Linked DNA regions of Homo sapiens: region 2 is linked to region 1. The links come from fine-mapping of genetic effects on gene expression. A gene starts in region 1. The other region holds a variant in brackets. All regions are shown on one strand. Distances are between the middles of the regions. Region 1 holds the start of GJA3 (gap junction protein alpha 3). Region 2 holds the start of LOC105370101 (a long non-coding RNA gene).

Region 1 (2,500 bases):
CCCTTATGAGATGCTTATCTCGATATGAACCAAACTGCTGAGCAGGTGGAATCTGTGCCAAACTAGCTGATGTTTACTTTGAACACACTGATATTCGGAAAATAAATCCCTCTTTTTTCCTCTTTAATCTTTTAATGTTTGTCTTGCACATGGATGGACCGCCAGTGAAGTGATGCGCACATCATAAATCACCATGGTTTTTAATTCCTGGGTGATGAGACCCATAATTCGCTTGTCAGCTGTTTGTATAGAATCATTTTTAAATGGCATGTTTTGGAGACATCTTGATAAAATAAAAACTGGAGTTCTAAAGTTGCAGTCACATATTCACGAACCGAGAACTCTACATGGTAGGATGAATTTTGCTCACTAGTGTGGAGTCGGCAACAAAGCAAATGCAGCCGCGTCACTGCCGTTTGTTTTCTCAAGTCTCCTACGGGAAGGGGCTCGGACAGTGCTTTTCCACTCCTCTGCAAATTCCTTATAGTTGAACACATCATAACAAACATACAGGTCGAGAAATCTGGTCGTGGCATTAATAGCTACAGTGTTTCTTAAAAATAAAAAGTTTTAAAAAGTTTCTGAAAAAAATGTAGGCGAGCCAACCTTGTTTCTAAACAATCCCAACAGGACTTTTAGGAGCACGGCGATGCTGAATGCCCGTGGACGGCTGGGTGCGCGCCGTTAGCTGGCGCGGTGACATCTGCTTAGAGTTTTCAAGCATTTCAGCATCGCTAGGAGCCCTACAGCCTGACGGTCCGGGACAGCCCGGCTTCCTCCACCCGAGGGGGAAAACAACCCCAGGAAAACAACTTAAACTCGGCCTTGGACTGTCCATCAAGGGAAGCCAAACGAGGCGCTGCTCTCCAGACCTCCAGGAGCAAAGGAGGAAGATCAATTATTCCAAAAGTTTCTCACAAATTTCCCGAGCTCCCCACAACTTTTTGAAGAATCCTGAAAGAATCCTAGGGGGCTGGGAGCCGCACACGTGCCGGGGCTCGGCTTCCCAGCTCGGCAGTCTCAGCCCGCTGGGCTCGCCCGGCAGCTCCGCTGCGCCGCCGACCCGCCCGTCCCCGCCCCGCGCTGCCCTCGGCCCCTGTGCCTGGCCTCCGGGGCGCCCGGCCCGCCTTACCCCGCTCTGCCGCGGCGGCGACCCGGGTGCGTTCCTCCGGAGCAGGGCTCCCGGCCGCTCTGAAAAGAATTCCTTTCACACGTGCGGTGCTGCTTCACGCGTGCGCCCCGCGCCAGGGCCCGACCTCCCCGCCCTGATCGCCATCCCTGCAGCCCCAGTGTGCGCTGCGCCCGACGCCCCCAAGCTGCAGCTCAGGACGCCGCGCCACGCCCCCGCCGCCTCCGAACAGCCCCGCCCCGCGCGCTTCCCAGCACGCACACCTACCGCCCCCGCATCCCTACCCTGTACGCGCAGCCACAGCACTCGCCCGCGTCCGCATTCCACACCCTACCCCGCGCGCACGTCCATGCCTAGCGCCTGCATCCCCATCCCGCACCTGCGCGGGCCCTGGGGATGTGGACGCGGGGGCTCTTCCCTGCCGCCTACGCACTCCGGGGCATGCCCGCGCGGGACGTGAGAGGAGAGCCGAGGGCTGTTGGGGCGGGCCCGACCCGCTTGCGGGGCGCCCACCGCACGCAGATGCGCCAGCCCGCGCCCCGCTCGCGCCTGTCCTGGGCTTCGCAGGCCCGGCGAGGTAGCTGCTCTCCGGGCGCTCCCACGGTCGGAGGCGCGTGGGCGTCGGGCACCTAGGTCTCGCCCGCCTGCAGCCGCCTGGGGACGCGGGTTCCGGACGGCTGGCGCGGGGCGGGGCGGGGACCACCGAGCAGGAAGTCCCCGCGGAAGCGCCGCCGGGCACAGCGTGGGTGCTGTCGAGGAGTGGCGCCCGGGCGGGGCGGGAGGTTATAAATAGCGGCCGCCATCCTGCTTCTCTTCAGACACACTTAATTTAGCCGGCAGGCACACGGATGCTTATTTTTAAAAAAAGAACTTGTTTTATTGCGCTCGAGGTGACCGGGAAGGTGTCCCCGCGGGTCACTCGCTCCATCTGGTCCTGGAGACGAGATGCCAGGGCGAGGCCTAACCTGCCTGCTGGCGCCCAACGAAGATTTTAACGTTTTCTGTTCCCTTCGGGGTGGTTTTACCACGCTTGAGAGGGACGCCTACCGCGGAAGGCCGCGGACCGAGGGCGGCATCGCGTCCTTGTCTGCTGTCTGGGCACAGCCTAGAGAGGCCGCGGGTCCCCTCCCCGTCCCCCAAGGTCTGGAGTGGGGTTTGACCAGCCTGGGATATTAACAAATATCGGTGGACTGCATTTCGGTGATCATTCCACAAGCTGAAATGGCTTCAAAATCACCTTTATGAGTAATAAGTTTATTCCAGGAATGTGGCAAAATGCAAGTCTGATAGTTTTCGTGTCTTCATGGAGCAGCTTCCGTCGGCTGCCTTCGTTAGCGTTTAGATCTACTCGGATTAGCAGTTGGCTTGCCC
Region 2 (2,500 bases), 40 kb before region 1:
ACACACACACAGAGAGAGAAAGAAAAAGAAACTTTCGGGAACCGGACAGCTTTTCTGTGCACTGGAAGGCACTCACCCCCCTGGCCTGGTAGACTCCTACCCATGAATCTGATGTCAGCTCAGACGTCTTCCTCCAGCTGCCTGTAGGACGCCTAGACCAGAAAGGGCGCCTCTAGATGCCCTCCTAGTTCTCAGGCCTTTTTCTTCATAGCACGTGTCACCGTTTGTGAGAACAAGTGATTTCTATGATTGAGAACTGTCTCCCCTTCTCGTCTGTGAGCCCTGTCAGTTCGGGGTGTCTGATTCTGCTCCCATGCTCAGTACCCAGAGGCTGATACATAGTATGCACTCGATAAAAAAAGGTTTTTGAGTGAATGAATCAATGTATCTGATCCCAGCTCTGCCTTTTACTAGCTCTGTGACACACTCAGATACTTAGCGTCTCTGAGTTTTACCTTCCACATGTGCACAGTGGTGCTAAGTGTTAAATAAGATTTATGGGAGGCCATTGAATTGGGCTGAGCTCCTGCACTAGGCCCCAGTAGGCCAGACCAAAATGGAATCACTTGTGCTAAGTGCCACGTAATCAAACTGAAACTTAAACAAAACAGGAAAATCCCCCACCAGGGCCAGTTTTCCTGAAAAAATAGGAGACTACCAGCAACCAGTCAAAAGGGGGCCAGTCCACTTGAGCCTGCATAAGAGAGGTTTCCTCCGCTTAAACTCATACAAGGAAATGTGGAGGGGTCCAGGTTGTTGGCGTTTTGAGCAAAGAATTGAACAAAACGCACAAACAAAGCAAGGAAAGAAGGAAGCAACAAAAGGAGAGATTTATCGAAAATGAAAGTACGCTCCACAGGGTGGGAGCCGCTGGAGCATAGGGGCTCTTTTTACAGAATTTTCTGGGGTTTAAATACCTTCTAGAGGTTTCCCATTGGTTACCTGGTGTACACTCTATGTAAATGAAGTAGTGACCTGCAACCAGAGGCTGAGGTGAAGTTACAAAGGTTACACCCGATGCAAGCCTCTGTTTGCAAAGTGAAGTTACAAAGTTACAGTTCTATGCAAAGGAAGACTTGGCCCACAATCAAGCTGATTGGTTGTGGGAAGCGACCAATCAGAGGCTGAAGTGAAGTTACAAAGTTACAATCCTATGTAAACGTCTGATTGGCTGCCCTCAGAGAC[A/G]CTTTCAATTTTCCATCTGCCAGGCAGAAAAGGGTGGGGGTTTGCAAAGGGAGTAGCCTCCGGTTTTTTGTTTGTTTTTTCTTTTTTGAGACGGAGTTTCACTCTTGTCGCTCAGGCTACAGTGCAACGGCGCGATCTCCGCTCACTGCAACCTACGCCGCCCGGGTTCAAGCGATTCTCCTGCCTCAGTCTCCCGAGTAGCTGGGGTTACAGGCGCCCGCCAACACGCCAGACTAATTTTTGTATTTTTAGTGGAGACGGGGTTTCACCACGTTGGCCAGGCTGGGCTGAAACTCCTGACCTCAGGTGATCCGCCCACCTCGACCTCCCAAAGTGCTGGGATTACAGGCGTGAGCCACCATGCCCGGCTACCTCCGGTTTTTTTGTTACTTAGGTGTGAAAAGTTGGGGTTTTCCTTTTGATTTAGTTCTAGGAAGTCAGCGTGAAATCGGCCTTAGGTTCCCTGCCTCCAGACCCTATTCTCCGCCTCAGAAAGTCACCCAATGATAACCAATGCACTTTTCTCACCACACGATTTCCTCATTCCTGCTTGAGCTGCCTTACCAAAGCCGATTGTTCTGCAACACCCAGCCGAGTGCCTTCTGTTTTGTAGTCTGGAGGCTGCCTGTTTCATACATTGCTAATAAGAGTCAATTAAATCTTTAAAACTCAATTTGTCAAAATGTTGTTCTTTGGTGTCAGAGACCAATACTGTAGGGAATTTGTGTTCATTGACTGAGCTCAAGTACATAGAACAGCTGGAGGGAAGAGACGCGCAGGGCAAGGTATGAGGTGGGGGCTGCAGGTGCACCACATTCCCACAACTTGGAAACTCTTCCAACCTGCTTGTTCAAGAGCTTTTTTAGAGCTTGATTTCTAGTCCCCTCCCCTTCTCACAGGTCTAGGGGTGAGGCTGAAGGATCCAACCTCCTACTTACCTGGTCTTTCCGGTGACCAACCCCATCCTGAAGCTATCTAAGGGTTCACCCTAAGTCACCTCAGTAGCATAAACTCAGATGTGATCAATAGGTGCTTCATTATGAATAACAAAAGACACTACTATCACTCAGGAAATTCTAAGGGCTTTAGCGGCTCTGTGCTAGGAACCAGGGACAAAGACCAAATATATTTCTCTAAATGTACCCTATCATCCTAATGGGCTCAAGGTGGTATCTTATTGTGGTTTCGATTTGCCCTTTCCCCAGTGATTACTGACATTCAGCATCTTTGGTGCTTATTAGCAATTTGTATGTATTCTTTGGAGAACTGTTTATTCATGTCCTTTGCCCATTTTAAAATTGGGTTGTTTGGGTTG

Evidence for each region.
Region 2: its variant is fine-mapped to the expression of GJA3 in blood mononuclear cells (TOPMed, PIP 0.98).

What each region holds. Positions count from the first base shown.
Region 1 is chr13:20,159,758-20,162,257 of GRCh38, forward strand. GJA3 (gap junction protein alpha 3) reads right to left here and starts at 1,295. Exons shown (of 2, transcript NM_021954.4): 1 at 1,133-1,295. RefSeq lists silencers at 1,026-1,115, 1,276-1,355, 1,586-1,945.
Region 2 is chr13:20,119,605-20,122,104 of GRCh38, forward strand. It overlaps LOC105370101 (a long non-coding RNA gene), which reads right to left and starts at 185. Exons shown (of 3, transcript XR_941719.3): 1 at 101-185. The variant A/G (reference allele first, on the strand shown) is at 1,186.